Linked DNA regions of Homo sapiens: region 2 is linked to region 1. The links come from fine-mapping of genetic effects on gene expression. A gene starts in region 1. The other region holds a variant in brackets. All regions are shown on one strand. Distances are between the middles of the regions.

Region 1 (8,327 bases):
ACTGGCTGGAGCTCCTGGCCTGACCTTCATCCCACCCCACTCACTGGGCTCTTTCTGGGCCTGCAAGGCTGGATATGGGTGGCTGCTCTTCCTGGGTCCCCCACCTCACAGCAGAAACACCACACCCTGCCAAATGCCCACAGGGCCACCACCATGTCATGGTGAAGAGCTGACAGGTCCCAGCTCCCAACCCACTAGCTGGTGACCTTGGCAGATGACTTTGGAGACTCGGTTTCTCCATCTGTAAATTGGGTCTTATGGGAATTATTATTTTATCTTGTTTTGTTTTGAGATGGAGTCTCGCTCTGTTGCCCAGGCTGGAGTGCAGTGGCGTGATCTTGGTTCACTGCAACCTCCATCTCCCAGGTTCAAGCGACTCTCCTGCCTCAGCCTCCTGAGTAGCTGGGATTACAGGTGTGTGCCACCACATCCGGCTAATTTTTGTATTTTTGGTAGAGACGGGGTTTCATCATGTTGGCCAGGCTGGTCTCGAACTCCTGACCTCAGGTGATCTGCCCACCTCAGCCTCCCAAACTGCTGAGATTACAGCTGTGAGCCTTTTATGGGCTCTTATGGGAATTAAATGACAATATGTACAGCAAGTGCTCATTACGTGGGAATTTTTCTCTTCTCAGCTGCTGTCACTCTCAGAAAAGTGGCAGAGATTTGGGGACTTGCAGCATCCAGGGTTGGAAGTCGCCTGCCTGAAAGCCATGTCCAACCCTTTGGCTTGATAGAGAAACTGAGGCCTAGAGGACAGAGGCAGCTGGGTTTGGGGTGGGATCCCAGGGGAAACTGCTATTTCCTGGCTGGGTGACCTTGGACTGGTCAAAGAACCTCTCTGTGCCTGTGCATCCCCACTTGTAAAATGGAACTAATAATCCAGGTGCTCCCTGCACTGACCCCGCAGGGCTGCTCTGAGGGTTGAGCACAGGCCTGACCATGGCCCAAGCAGGGCTCTATTCACAGCTGTGGCACCGCCCTCAGCCCAGTGCCTGGCACAGAGCTGCTGGGTAACCATCTGGTAAGTGAATGGTTCCTGAGCATCCAGCTGGCAGCACCAGCCCCTGGGATGCTCGTTTCTAACAGATTCCCAGGGCCTTGGTCCACCCCTCTTAGGTGGGGGATAGGCACGTGCATTCTTAGCAGCTCCCTAGAGCTCTCCTGCGTGTTTTGTTACAACATGTTATTTGTGAACGGGCAGTACATGCTCATGGTACAAAAGGGTAGTCAGGACAAAGCTCCCACCCGTGCCCACATCCCCATCTCCTAGACCCCCTCCCCAGGGGCAGGCCCTGCTACCAGGTGCTCATAGCTTCCTGGGGAAGCCAGAGCCAGCCGCCCCTGGCTAGATAGCTCCTACAGGACCAAGGGGAGAAGTTCTATTCTATCCTCTCCCTCCATCTCAGACACTCTGTGACCTGGGGTCTCCTAAGAAGAGCAGCAGCATGCTTCCCACACCCTGGCCAGCCCTGGGCGCCACCGGAGAGTCACCTACCTTCTGAGCGCAGCATGGTCCCCATCTCTAGGGGAATGACAAGCAACGGGAAGACCCCACTGAGCCCCACCATGAGGGAACCCAGGAGGGAGCAGATCCAGGTGTCCAGCCGCTCTCCGCTCAGCAGAGCCCCCCAGGACTCGCTTTCCTTGTTGTCCAGGCGACAGGCCGTCGCAGTCCCCCGGCTCCGGAGGGCCGGCTGGGAACCCCCAGCCCTTTCCAAGAGCTCCAGGGCAAGGGCAGTGAGGAAGAGGAGCCTTGGGCCCGCCATGCCACAGCCAGGGCAGGGACATCCAGGCATGCCACGTACTGAAAAACACAAAAGGCCACCTATATGAGCTACAGCCTTGGCCGCACACCTGCTTAGGAAACGTGGCGCCTCCCTCCTCCCCGCAAGGGACCCTGGCATCCACCCTCCTGCTGTCCTTGCCAGAGCGTCTGAGCATCCAAATGCTGGGTGCACAGCAATGGGGCCCTGTGTCTCCACACCCTACTCCTGAGCACTGCGTATTTTTTCCTTCTGAGCAGCTCCAGACTGTGTCAGCACCTCCGCCTGAGGCTAAACTTTCCCTAATGACAGGGTGAGGCGCTGGCTGGCTCTCCTCAGCCACCGGCGGCACGGCCCGGCCCAGCTGGGTGTCTCTGGCTGCCAGGGGAGGCCCTGCCGCCCGCGACACCCCAGAGACTGAGGCACCCCTTCTAAGGGGATGGGGTGGATTCAGAGAGACATACGTGGGGAAACTGAGCAGATGAGCCAGGGCAAGACCATCCACGCTTCTTCCTAGGACATGAGACCAATGTCCCCAGGGCACTGAGGGCAACAGGAGATGGGGCTGATGAGGAAGGAGCCTTTAGCCAGGGGATGCCTCTCTCTTGTATAGCGCAGGCTTTAGAGCCCCCACGGTGAATTCTATGCTGCACTTTGAGCTGTCTAACTCTGGGCAAATCTCTGAAGCCCCCCCTCTGAGCCTCAGTGCCCTCATCTGCAGGACAGGGATCAATATCACCTGCCTCAGCTGTGAGGACGAGATAAGCCTGAAAGTGCAGGTGGATGTACCCGGCATGAGGAGGCGCAGAGGCCCTGCCTGTGCCAGGGAAGGCCTGGGGCTCCCTGCAGCAGGAATGTGCCCAGCCGGCCGATCACAGGATGTGGACGTGAGTCAACCAAGCGAGAAGTTCCATCTGGAAACTCGGGCATGAGGTTTAAATGTGGTCTGCTCTGCCTCAGGCTGGCTGTGACCTTGAGCTGGTGATGTCCCTGCCTCAGTTTCCTCACCTTCTGATGGAGATGGGAGGGGAAGAAAGCAGCTGCCTCTGGGTGGTGGCAGAGATGCCCATGTCTAGGACCTCCAGGCCTTAACTAATCAGGGGCACTGATGAAGCCAGCGGGGCTCCACTGGGGACCACAGGCAAGACTGGGCCAGGACGAGGCGGTCACGCAGAGGTGAGGGGACCACAGGCTAGCGGGAGGGAATACACGGAGAGTCCAAGGGGAGAGGAAAGTAGAGAGTGAGAGAGCTAGAGAGAGGCGGGTGGGACGCGGAGAGGACAGCGAGGGAGGGATGGGGCGTGGGGCGCGGAGCGATGGGGGAGAGGAGGCCGAAGCGGGCGAGCCTGACTCCCGGGTCCTGGGAGCCGGCCCAGGTCTGATGAGGACCAGTCGGACGGGGCGAGGGATCGGCCGGGTCCATCACGCCCGGGGCGCGGGCCCCGAGGGTCCTGCTGGCACTCACCGTGCGGCGGCGGCGGCGGCGATCCGGGCGGCCCCAGCCATCCAGCTGCGGTGCCGCGCCCCGCCCAGGCTCTGCCCCGCCCGGCCGCCCGGCCGCCCGGCCCCCGGCCCGGGGCCGCCCCCGGCGCGCGGCCACGTCACAAGGGGCCTGTCCGGAACCCGAGGCGCCGCGTGCCGCGGGGTCGGGGGGAGTGGCGGCGGGAGGGCGCTTCCGCCTCGCGGCGGTGGGGGACCCGGGTAGAGGGCGCACTTCCGTTTGGGCAGGGCTGCGGGCCGGAGGGGAGGGTCGGTCGGAAGTGAGAGAGCCACACGCACCGCGCTCAGCCAGGCTGGGCAGGGACGGAAGCGGCGGCTCTGCGGGGACCGCGATCGACCAGGCTGCGGGGCTTGCGGATCTGGCCGCCGCTTCCCGTCCAGGGCCGCAGTCTGCCCGTGGCCGCACGGGGGCGCGCCCGGCCGCCAGACCACGCCGCCCAGGTCGGGCTGGGAGGACTACTGTGCGCTCCTGCTCTGAGTCAGCCCGGCCTGGCTCCTCCATGAGCAAGGGAAAGGGGAAGTGCCTGCCGCAGGGAGGGGCCTGGCCCCGGGAACCTCAGAAGAGGGAATTTTATTCTTACTCATCGAATTATTTTTATGCTTTGGTTTTTCACTGGGAACCTCAGGCCACTGTCTCCAGGGCTTGTAACCCTTTGGGGTCCAATGCATGGTGGCTGGACCCTGCTGATGGGAACTCCAAACCTGGGAGGCGAGGGCTCTGTGCTTCCCTCACCTGGAGGAAGCTAGACCTGACCTCTTTGGTTAGACTAAGGCAGCAAACACTGGATAGCAGTTCTTATAACCGCAATTTACTGACCACCTACTATGTGCTATTCACTTTACTCGCACTATCTCACTGAATCCTCATATTATCCCATTGTGGTGGGTACTGTTAGCCCAGGGTCACACAGTGGCACAGATGGCAGAGCCAGGATTCAAACCTGGGTGTCCTGAAGCCAGAGTATGTGATACCACTTCTCACGTCTAGGTCCTGAACAGCAGTGGGAGTCTGGCTTGGCGTTTCGAGTTTGTATTCTTCTCTGGAAATCAGCCAGTACAGGAGAAGATTCAGGAAGGGGCATGTGGGTACTCACTTGGGCAGAGATAGCGACTGAGTACAGGTCTCTTAAGTCTCTGACCCTCATCAGCCTCCCATGGCAGCTCCAACCATTTACTCTGTCACTTTCCCCTCTGCTGGGGCTCTTGAGAGCACACTCAGCTCTCAGGGCTGCCTCTGGTGCCTGTCCCACTTCATGTTGCACTGTTGGCCTTCCTTAGACCGCCAACTTCTCCCTGGTGGCCCAGCTTGTCTTCTGAAGCTTTCTGTCCATCTCACCCCACCGGGCCCATACAACTGCCAGGACGTTCTGTTCCCTCCCTGAGTTCCAAAATGGAATCCCTGGGTTAGTTTCTTGGCAAAGAAAAGCTACTCAGGGATCCTGCCCTAGGACTTCTAAAATGCCCCCCTCCCTGTATGCAAAAGCGCTCCATCTTATGCAAAGCACTTCACAATATGCAAATGATTTCACAATAACACAGTCAGCATTCCTGCCTCTGGAGGCTGAGCGCTCCTGGCCACCCAACAAGGGGATGGGCAAGACCCAGCCAGAAACGTTACTTGGTGCCAATGCACTACCCTTTCCTCCCACCTGGCCTGGAATTCCCATCGGATACCTAAGGCCCGGTGGCTCACATCTGTAATCCCAGCACTTTGGGAGGCCTAGGAAGGAAGATCTTTTGAGCCCAGGAGTTCCAGACCAGCCTGGGTAACAAACTGAGAACTGGTCTCTACAAAAAAATTTAAAATTAGTCAGGTGTAATGGTGCGCACCTGTAGCCCCAGCTACTCAGGAGGCTGAGGTGGAAGGATTGCTTGAACCCGGGAGGTCAAGGCTGCAGTGAGCCCTGATCGTGCCACTGCACTCCAGTCTGGGTAACAGAGCGAGACCCTGTCTCAAAAATAAAAAAATAAAAAAAATTACAAATTAATAAAATTGCAGGGGTTTCCAGGTGTGTGAGAAAAGTGAGATGCAGAAATATTTATTTAATATGATCCACTATTTTTATTTTTTAAGAGACTATTTTAAAATAATGACAAAAAGAAACCTTGTATATGTGTATGTGATTAAAGGTATCAGTATATATAAGTCTATGTATAATGAATACATAAAAAACATAGATAACACATTAAAGTGATATTATGGATTCTATGGTGGGAGGAACTAATGTGAATAGGGAAGGAAAAAATGTTAAAGGAAAACAACACATTAAAAGATGTGTATGGCCATATATGGCTGGGCATGGTGGCTTATGCCTGTAATCCCAGCACTTTGGGAGGCCAAGGTGGGCAGATCACCTGCGGTCGGGAGTTCAAGACCAGCCTGACCAACATGGAGAAACCCCCTCTACTAAAAATACAAGATCAGCCAGGTGTGGTGGCGCATGCCTGTAATCCCAGCTACTCGGGAGGCTGAGGCAGGAGAATCGCTTGAACCTGGGAGGTAGAGGTTGCAGTGAGCCGAGATCGCGCCATTGCACTCCAGCCTGGGCAACAAGAGCGAAACTCCATCTCAAAATAAATAAATAAAAGGTGTATATGATCACATGTATGCAATGTGTAAAATTGTATACATATATCAAATCTCATCTCAGATATATGAAAATCTCACTATATAAAATCTCTTTCTCTTTCTCTTTTTTTTTTTTTTTTTTTTGAGACAGGGTCTCACTCTGTCACCCAGACTGGAGTATAGTGGCATGATCTCGGTTCACTGCAACCTCCGCCTCCCAGGCTCAAGTAATTCTCCAGCCTCAGCCTCCCAAGTAGCTGGAATTATAGGCATGGGCCACTACTTCCCGGCCAATTTTTGTAGTAGAGACAGGGTTTCACCATGTTGGCCAGGCTGGTCTTGAACTCCTTACCTCAAATGATCCACCCGCCTCAGCCTCCCAAAGTGCTGGGATTATAGGCGTGAGCCACTGCACCTAGCCTCTGTCTTTCTCTCTCTCTCTCTCTCTCTGGCTTACCTCTTGGTGTCTTGGTGGTTAAGACAATACGATTCTTTGTTTTGTTTTGTTTAGAAAGAAGATAAAAGGGAACAGAAGAGAAAATTCAAAAGGTGAATATAACAAATTTTTTTTTAACTCTGTCACCCAGGCTGGAGTGCAGTGGTGTGATCACAGCTCACTGCAGCTTCGATCTCCTGGGCTCAAGCAATCCTCTCGCCTCGGCCTCCCAAAGCACTGGGATTATAGGCGTGTGCCACTGTGCCCATTCAAGACAGTAAGATTCTGATGCCAGACTTCCTGGGACAAATTACTTAACTCCTTATGCCTCAGTTTCCTCATCTCGAAATTAGACTTAGATGTTGTTGTGAAGATTAAATGGATAAATACAGACAAAGCACTTAGAACTATGCCTGACATATGGGAAGTTTTATATAGAGCTAGAAATTAATGCTGTTTATATGTATGGATATATGGGTATAAAAATATTAAAGCAACATAAAGAATAGCTACATTAAAGATACAGAGTGGGGACACCCTCTCTCCTTGCTAAGCATAAGAAAGTGTTTTTTTGTTTTGTTTTGTTTTGTTTTTTGAGATGGAGTCTTGCTTCGTCACCCAGGCTGGAGTTCAGTGGCGCGATTTCGGCTCACTGCAACCTCTGCCTCCCAGGTTCAAGCAATTCTTCTGCTTAAGCCTTCTGAGTAGCTGGGACTATAGGCACTCACCACCACGCCCAGCTAATTTTTTATATTTTTAGTAGTGACAGGGTTTCACCATGTTGGTCTCGAACTCCTGACCTGGTGATCTGCCCGCCTCCGCCTCCCAAAGTGCTGGGATTACAAGTGTGAGCCACCGCTCCCGGCCTGTTTTGTTTTTTGTTTTTTGTTTTGTTGTTGTTGTTTGAGACGGAGTCTTGCTCTGTCACCAGTCTGGAGTGCAGTGGCACGATCTTGTCTCACTGCAGCCTCCACCTCCCGGGTTCAAGCCATTCTCCTGCCTCAGCCTCCTGAGTAGCTGGGATTACAAGCTCCCGCCACCACTCCCGGCTAATTTTTTTATTTTTAGTAGAGACGGGGTTTCACTATGTTGGCCAGGCTGGTCTTGAACTCCTGACCTTGTGATCCGCCCGCCTCAGCCTCCCAAAGTGCTGGGACTACAGACGTAAGCCACCAGGCCCGGCCTGTTTTTTTGTTTTTGAGTTGGAGTCTTGCTCTGTCACCTAGGCTGGAGTGCAATGGTGTGATCTCAGCTCACTGTAACCTCCGCCTCCCAGGTTCACGTGATTCTTATGCCTCAGCCCCCCGACTACAGGCACCCACCACCATGCCCGGCTAATTTTTGTATTTTTGGTAGAGACGGGGTTTCAACATGTTGGCCAGGCTGGTTTTGAACTCTTGACCTCAGGTGATCTGCCCTCCTCGGCCTCCCAAAGTGTTGGGATTACAGGCGTGAGCCACTGCACCCAGCCACAAATGAGTGTTTTCTGACATATTTATCAGTTGGTTTGGAGGCCATAGGGTTTTCCTGGGTTGAAGCACTGGACAAACTTCAGCAGAGCTGGATGGGCCTGGGTACTGCGTGGCTCTAAGTGGCTGAGAGGTGTCTGGGATCAGGGAGCCACAGATCTATTTCTCTGACTTCACTGCAATGCCCAGAATCTGACTTTAACCCCTTGTTCCTGTCTCTGGCCCCTGCAAGACTGGCTGGCCTGGCAATGGCCAATGCTTTGACATCCTTCCCTCCACTCTGGCAATCGAGGGCTAGAGACTTGGGCTGGGGATGGATACTTCCAGAGTGTGGTCTCTAGTGAGATATCTGGCCTTATCCTTGTCACAGGGCTTCCTCCCGTGGGGGTCAGCAGGAAGATAGCAGTCTCTTATTGAAAGGCATATGGGGCTCAGGATGGTAATCACATTACGCAGGGTCACAGCTAAAAAGAGGCACAGCAGCTCCCCCAGGGCCACAGGTTCAGCTTCTCCAAAGGAGCCCTGCCCCTCTGAAACCCCTGACCCCAATCCTTTCTCAATCCTTCTTTCCAGGGTAGCCTTAGCTC
Region 2 (8,327 bases), 140 kb before region 1:
GTCTCTACAAAAGAAAAAAAATTAGTTGGACATGGTGGCACACACCTGTGATCTCAGCTACTCACAAGGTTCTGGTGGAAGGATCTCATGAACCCAGGAGTTCAAGGTTGCTGTGAACTATGATAGCACTACTACACTCCAGGCTGGGTGACAGAGCAAGACCCTGTGTCTAGAAAAGTAAAATTAAAAAAATAAAAAATGTTACAATCTCTGCCATTATCCATGAATATTCCCTTAGGATAAATTCCTAGAAAGGTATGTAAAAGTTTAGATTCCTCTAGGCAGATTATCTGAACTTTACTCCCATCACCACTTGGAGAAGGCTATTTCTCTGCACTCTTACTAACACTGGCTTTTTTTTTTTTTTTTTTTTGAGACAGAGTCTTGCTGTGTCGCCCAGGCTGGAGTGCAGTGGTTCGATCTCGACTCACTGCAACCACCGTCTCCCAAGTTCAAGCTATTCTGCCATCTCAGCCTCCCGAGTAGCTGGGATTACAGGCACCCGCCATCATGCCTGGCTAACGTTTGTATTTTTTAGTAGAAACAGGGTTTCACCAGGTTGGTCTTGAACTCCTGACCTCAGGTGATCCATCTGCCTCGGCCTCCCAAAGTGCTAGGATTACAGGCATGAGCTACCGCGCCTGGCCGACATTGGCTATTTTTTAAAAAAAATAAATCTTAATCTATTTGTAAGGCAAAACATGAAACAGGAAGCTTTACATACTCTTAAATCTCACACTAGGCTTTTTTTGTATTTGGACTGTTTAGCATTTTGTCTATGTTGCTGAAACCCTTTGAAGTTACAAGATCTATTTGTGTTCTTCATGTAATTGTTCTTCCCCCCAACCTTGGGCTAACAGTCTGTGGCCTTCCTTGGTAACTAAATGCAAGAGTGATATTAATACCTTACAAGTTCCTCCCTTGCAAATGGGAGCCCTAAGTCAAGGCACAGATAGAATAGGAAAAAGCTTCTGGTTGCTCTTCAAGAAGTTTATCGAGTTAGATACAGTGAAAAGCAATGGAGATATTAGGAGAATAACAAGATGGGCATGGAAGAGTTTCTGTTTGCTCTTCAAGAAATATCTATTGAGTCAGATATTGTGAAAAGCACTGGAGATATAATAAGACGGGCATGGTGCCTTTCCTTATTTAGCTCATGGGCAGGTTCCAAGAAGCTTCTAAAGGCGCAACATTTTGTTTTCCATATCTGGCACCTAGATATACCTATTCAGTAAGTCAACAATATTTATTGAGCATGTACTATGGATTAGGCATTATCAAGGCCCTGAGGATAGAGCAGTGAAATAAAACAGACAAAACCTCTATCCTCATGAAGTTTACCTTTGGTTTACCTTCTGGGCTACTGTCAATAAAACAAGTAAAATATATAAATACAAAATATACTGTGAGGCCGGGTGCAGTGGCTCACGCCTGTAATCCCAGCACTTTGAGAGGCAGAGGCGGGCAGAACACTTGCAGTCAGGAGTTTGAGACCAGCCTGACCAACAGGGGTTGAAACCCCGTCTCCACTAAAAATACAAAAATTAGTCAGGCATCGTGGCACGCGCCTGTAATCCCAGCTACTCGGGAGGCTGAGGCAGGAGAATTGCTTGAACCTGGGAGGTGGAGGTTGCAGTGAGCCGAGATCGCGCCACTGCACTCCAGCCTGGGTGACAAGAGCTAGACTCCGTCTCAAAAAAAAAAAAAAACTGTGTTAGATAATGATAAATGTTTTGGATAAAAATGAAAGTGGGATTGAAAGCATGGGTGTGTGTGTGTGTGCACATGCCATGCATGCAAGCAGTGTAAAATAGAGTGCTTAGGGAAGACTGGACTGAGAAGGTGACACTTAAGTCAAAGTCTGAAGGAGGTGAGGAAGTGAGCCATGTGGATATCCACATGATTCTATGGAGCACAAAAGGAGACAGACTCTCTGCTTGAAACATTTCTACAACCTATAGCAGCAAATATATGGTAATATTTGTGACAACATTCTGTAAGCTATAATGGTCTATAAATATAGGATGTTTTCAGTCAACTACACATAAAACTATTAACAAGAACAAGATCATATATCAGCATTATGAATGTATATAAAACTACCCAGTACAATTAGGGAATATGATCATGTACAATTTAAGGACTATATGGTACCAGAAAAACTCTGGTTAGTTTTTTTCCCCCCCAAAGGCGAAAGAGGAAAACCCTTGAGGCTTCTGCTTGGAAGCCCACTTGTTGTTTGTGGTAAGGTAGGATATAATCAGTATTTGTGGGTATAAAAATTATATTCTCTGGGAAGCCAGATGATGTTAGAGAGAAACCATCCCATGAGTTATTTGCATGTTGATGGGGCCAAAAGCTTCCAGAACAAAGTTTTCTTTCTTAATCTGCATTTAACTGCCTCACAAGGTCTGGAACCTAGGAATAAATGTTGGCTTAAACAACAACAACAACAACAACAAATTGTACTGCTTGCGTTCCATCTAGACCCAGGGATTCCAGAGTAACTCAGGAGGAAGTCTTTAGAGACCTAACCTGAGTTAAGAAAAAAAAATATATATATATATTTTTTTTTCGGTAAAAGCAGGTTATGGCTGGGCAATCGGTCTCTTAATAGAATCTTTGTGAACTTCCTTATGTCGCAGCGATCGTTGCCAGGTTGTGCGTTCACACTGATTATCTTGCTAAAAAGCACTCCCTGCACTTGGAACACACATATTCACATCCCAGCAAAGAAGGAAGGCCTGGATGCTGTTGCTTGTCTGCTGGGGCAAAAAGGGGCGTGCCATGTGCCCAACGCTGGCCAAGCACCAGTCACTCACTCATCCATTTATTCAACAAATATCTTATTATGCTCCTATTCAGTGCCCAGTAGGGGTGCCTCCTTGCCCACCAGGGTCATCTAGAGCTCCTGTGGGTGCGATGGGCGGAGTCGAGAACTTCAGATTCCCAGGCCTGGCTCTTCCCTCCAGTAGGGATCGGAGACAAAGAGATGCGCCCCTGCAGCTCCCTAGGTTGAGGGCTCCGCCCGCGGCCCCAGGGGCTTAGGTGCGGCTGCTCCTCCACTTCCCAGCCCGAGGGGGCGCTGCAGCGCCCGGCGCTCGGCCCGCCCCTACGCCGCGCTCCGCTCGCATCGGCGCTGCGGGCGGCGCCGCGGTGATACGTTCCCCCTCGCCGCGCTCCCCCTCCTCCTCTGCCCTCCCCGCCGGTGGTAGGTGCCGGAAGTGCCGCCATTTTGGGGTGTTCTGCTCTGGCGGCAGCGGCAGCGGCGGCGGGACGCGGAGGCTCCCCCGGGATTCGGCCTCAGCAGCGAGGCGGCGGCGGCGGCTGCGGAGGCGCAGGCAGCAACTGAGGCAGCGGCAGGCTCAGGTGCAGCCGCTGGTGAGTGCTGCGGCCGCAGGATAACGGGCCGCGGGAGGGAGGGAGGGGAAAAAAGGCAAGAGGGAGGCGCCGCGGGGCGGGTCCGGTTAGGGAGGCCGCGGGTCACAGGGCCCTCCGGGCGCGGCCTTTTCTCGTTCCCTGCGTCCTGGGGTAGGGCTGCGATCTCCTCCTGCATGTCGGGGTCCCCGGCTCCCCGGGTCCTGTCGCGTTTGCCCAGCGCGTGCCCCCGCGCCCAGGGAGACCCGCCCTCCTCGTGGCTTTGCTTCCTCTCCCCGCGCCCTTTACCTTCACTCTCTAGGCTCAGAGGCCTCGTGCCCTGCCCAGGGCCAGCTCCGTTTTCCTCGTCTTTCTGGCTGCCGTGCTGGACCCAGGCTACCTGCCCGGGACACCCCATCTCTGCCCCTGTCGTCTCACGTGTTCTTAGTGTCCACTCCTGTGGGTGCCGAAGGGTCCGCGCCCCTA[G/C]AAGGCAGCGCTTTTCCCGAGCCTCGAGAGCCCCTCGTTCCTCGCCCCAGATCCGCTACGGCCTTGGCTCGCCCTCCCCCCACATCAGGTGCTCACCCAGTCGTGGCCTAGTAGCTGGGCAGGAATCTCGCACCCGGGAGCGGGAGGAGCACATTAAAGCGCTTTCTTCGCTAGGGACCAGGCTTTGATTTTAAAGCCAGTGGTGTCGTGGTTGTGGTCCTCCGGGTAGGATGTTGTTGTAATTCTTGGAGACCATTACACATGCACCAAGGAGCTTCTCATTGGTTTAGGCTCATACCCATAGTTGAGGGGAATGTGGTAAGATTTTGACTGGAATCTGTTTCCGCAAAATGGAATCTCTTTCTCGCCAGGAGAGAGCTGTAGGTTTATTACCTTCGAGTAAAAAGGCTGTATAACAGTTTTAAAGAGCATGAAATGCTTTATAATGTGTGCAGTGTAAGAGGTTACAAATAATGAATCTTTTACAAGAACTTCATCTTTTTTTTTTTTTTTTTTAAGACGGAGTTTCGCTCTTGTTGCTTAGGCTGGAGTGCAGTGGCGCTATCTCGGCTCACTGCAACCTCCCCAGGTTCAAGCAATTCTCCTGCCTCAGCCTCCCAAGTAGCTGGGATTACAGGCATGTGCCACCAGGCCTGGCTAATTTTCGTATTTTTAGTATAGACGGGGTTTCACCATGTTGATCAGGCTGGATGGTCTCGAACTCCTGACCTCGGGTGATCCACCCGCCTCGACCTCCCAGAGTGCTGGGGATTACAGGCGTGAGCCACCGCCCCCGCCCGGAACTTCACCTTTTAAAGTTCTTTTCACTGTCTTTGATTACCCATGAATTGGGAAGGCTTTAATTGGATGCTTTCCCCTTGCCCACAAGTGTAGCTTCTCTCCAAGCGCTTTGGAAGTTTCAGCCTCTCTATTAATCCTTGGTGAGAATGAAGGCGTCTCAATATAGAATCACCCTTTCTGTTTTAGCATTAAAGAGTCCACTTAGAAAATCATGGAATTACAATAGCATGCACAAACTGTTGCTACAGTGATTTTCTTCTCATGTTAATTTTTATATTCTTCAGGCTTTACTTACCTAGTATGTGGTTTCTGATCATGAGTTAGCCAAGATTGAAGCAGCACTGTTGGTAAAGCAAAGCTGGAGCTTTCAGTTGTTGCTTTAACCAGGAAGGTTATGGTTCCCCTAGTGGTTCTTTCCTCATGACAGTCCACCACCTGTTTCCATTAAGAATGGCCTTTGGCCCAGATCACAGGCCTCAACTTCTATTCAACCATTCATTCTGACCCCTTTAAAGAAAACCCAGGGTTTTCTTTAGAGATTGTGCTATCTAGACTTAAGATCTGGTAGCAAGAGGGGCTGTTAGAGATGGAATATCTTTTCTAGAACCCCTTCACTTTTTGGATGAGGAAACTGAGGGCCCTAGAAATTAAGTGACTTACTTGCCCAAGGTTATGTTTTTTTTTTTTTTAAACAATATCACGAGTAATAATGCAATCTTCCCTTTGAGGTGTAATGAAATGGGAAAGGACCCTGAATTGAAGTTAGAACTAGGCCTGGATTGTAATGCTTGCTCTGTCATTTACTGGTTACACAACCTTGGCAAGTCACTCAACTGTTCTGCTCCTCAGTTTATTCGCACCTGCAAAATGAAAGAAACAGCATCTGTCTCACATGGTATTAGTTCAGCTTCAGTAACATGGTGAAATACCCATGATGTAATAGGCAGACAGTGAAGTTTTTAGCCAAAATGATTTTTTTCTAAAGACTTCCGTGTATTTTTCTTAATACAGAAGTTACAGATTCACTATAAAAAAAAAACAGGTAAGTCAAAAAATGAAGAAACTCACCCATAGTGCCACCACTCAGAGATGATTGTTAAATATTGGGTCTTTATCTTGCCCATCCTTTTCATATGCTATAGAAATGCCTATCTTCCCAAAATAGGCTTATCTTAGTCACAGTTTTGTGATGTGGGTCCGGTCCCCCCCAACCCCGCCATGGAGTCTTGCTCTGTCAACCATACTGGAGTGCTCACTGCACACCCTGTCCCCCGGGCTCAAGCAGTTCTCCTGCCTCAGCCTCCCGAGTAGCTGTGATTACAGGCGCCCACCACTGCGCCCAGAGGGTTTTTGTATTTTTAGTAGAGATGGGGTTTCACCATGTTGGCCAGGCCGATCTAGAACTCCTGACCTCAGGTGATCTGCCCACCTCAGCCTCCCAAAGTACTAGGATTATAGGTGTAAGCCACCGTACCCGGTGTTTTTTTTTGTTTGTTTGTTTTTGTAGAGACAGGGTGTCACTGTTTTGCCCAGGCTGGTTTTGAACTTCGGATTACAGATGTGAGCCACTGAGCCTGGCCTACATTTTAAAATTGTGGTTAAAAACACAAAATTGGCTGGGCGCAGTGGCTCACACCTGTAATCCCAGCACTTTGGGAGGCTGAGGTGGGCGGATCACGAGGTCAGGAGTTCGAGACCAGCCTGGCCAATATGGTCAAACCCCATCTCCACTAAAAATACAGAAATTAACCAGGTGTGGTGGCATGTGCCTGTAGTCCCAGCTACTTGGGAGGCTGAGGCAGGAGAATCCCTTGAGCCCAGGAGGTGGAGGTTGCAGTGAGCTGAGATTGCACCACTGCACTCCAGCCTGGGCAACAAGGCAAGACTCTGTCTCAGAAAAAAAAAAAACAAAAAAAACCCACAACATTTACTAACTTAGCCATTTTTAAGTGTTCTGTGACATTAAGTACATTCGCACTGTTGGAAAACAGATCTGTGAGTTTTTCATCTTGCGTATCTGAAACTCTATGCCTGTTGGACAACAGCTCCCCTTTTCCCCCTCCTACTAGCCCCTGGTAACCACCATTATTTCTGTTTCTACCAATTTGACTACTTTAGATAACATCATGTAAGTGGAATCATACCATGTCTGTTTTTTGTGACAGACTTATTTCACTTAGTGTAATGTCCTCAAGACTCATCCATGTTGTACTGTGTGACCGGATTTATTTCCTTTTTAAGGCTAATACTCCATTGTGTATATATATATATCATATTGTTTATGGACTGCATCCACTAATGGACTTTTGGGTTGCAGCTACCTCTTGGCTATTGTGAATAGTGCTAATGTGACTAGGTGTGCAAATAGGTATTCCAGCCTCTGGAACAATATCAGTTGTTTTGGATATATACCCCAAAGTGGGATTGCTGGATCAAGTGATAATTCTGTTTTTAATTTTTATTATTTTGAAAGAATCTAGGCCACTGGAATAGTGTTTTTTTATTTGTTTGTTTGTTTTTTGAAGAACCCCTATACTTTTTTCTATAGCAGTTGCACCATTTTACAGTCTTGCCAGTAGTACACAAGGGTTCCAGTTTCTCTACATCCTTGACAATACTTTTTATTTTTTCATGGCCATCTTAATGGGTGTGAGATACCTCACTGTGGTAGTTTTGATTTGTATTTCTCTGCTGACTAGTGATGTTGAGCATCTTTTCATATGCTTGTTGGCCATTTATATATTATCTTTGGAGAAATGTCTGTTCAAGGCCATTTCCCAGTTTTTAATCAAGTTTTTTGATTTTGTATTGTTGAATTATAGAAGTTCTTTATATTTTCTGGATTTTTTTTTTTTTTTTTTTTGAGATGGAGTCTTGCTCTGTTGCCCAGGCTGGAGTGCAGTGGTGTGATCTCTGCTCACTGCAACTTCCGCCCACTGGGTTCAAGCCATTCTCCTGCCTTGGCCTCCTGAGTAGCTGGGACTACAGTCATGCGCTACCACGCCCGGCTAATTTTTGTATTTTTAGTAGAGAGGGAGTTTCACCATGTTGGCCAGGCTGGTCTCGAACTCCCAACCTCAGGTGATCCGCCCGCCTCGACCTCCCAAAGTACTGGGATTACAGATGTGAGCCACCGCACCCAGCCTCTATTTTCTGGATATTAACCCCTTATTAGATAGATGATTTGCAGATATTTTCTCCCATTCTGTAATTTGTCTTTCACTTTGTCGATTGTATGCTTTGATACACAAAATATTTCATGTTCGATATAGTCCCATTTGTTTATTTCTGGTTTTGTTGCCTGCGCACTTGGTGTCATATCCATGAAATCATTGTCAAATCCAATATCATGAAGTTTTTCCTCTATATTTTCTTCTAGGAGTTTTATAGTTTTAGGTCTTACATTTAGGTTGTTTTAACCTTTTTTTTTGAGACGGAGTCTCACTCTGTCACCCAGCCTAGAGTGCAGTGACTCGATCTTGGCTCACTGCAATCTCTGTCGCCCTGGTTCAAGCGATTCTCCTACCTCAGCCTCCCGAGTAGCTGGGATTACAGGTTCCTGCCACTGTGCCTGGCTAATTTTTGTATTTTTAGTAGAGACGGGGTTTCACCATCTTGGCCAGGCTGGTCTTGAACTCCAGACCTCGTGATCCACCTGCCTCAGCCTCCCAAAGTGTTGGGAT

The links. PIP is the estimated chance that this variant, and not a neighbour inherited with it, causes the effect.
Region 2: its variant is fine-mapped to the expression of SLC39A13 in whole blood (TOPMed, PIP 0.95).

The regions. Positions count from the first base shown.
Region 1 is chr11:47,403,567-47,411,893 of GRCh38, reverse strand. SLC39A13 (solute carrier family 39 member 13) reads right to left here and starts at 3,304. Exons shown (of 10, transcript NM_001128225.3): 1 at 3,232-3,304; 2 at 1,499-1,807. The coding sequence starts at 1,799. SLC39A13-AS1 (SLC39A13 antisense RNA 1) reads left to right here and starts at 2,612. Exons shown (of 4, transcript NR_182308.1): 1 at 2,612-2,942; 2 at 6,347-6,384. RefSeq lists enhancers at 1,180-2,044, 2,045-2,911, 3,200-4,022 and a silencer at 3,002-3,791.
Region 2 is chr11:47,548,046-47,556,372 of GRCh38, reverse strand. It overlaps CELF1 (CUGBP Elav-like family member 1), which reads left to right and starts at 3,241. Exons shown (of 15, transcript NM_001376376.1): 1 at 3,241-3,381. RefSeq lists silencers at 2,966-3,495, 3,566-3,655 and enhancers at 3,003-3,678, 4,354-5,029. The variant G/C (reference allele first, on the strand shown) is at 3,844.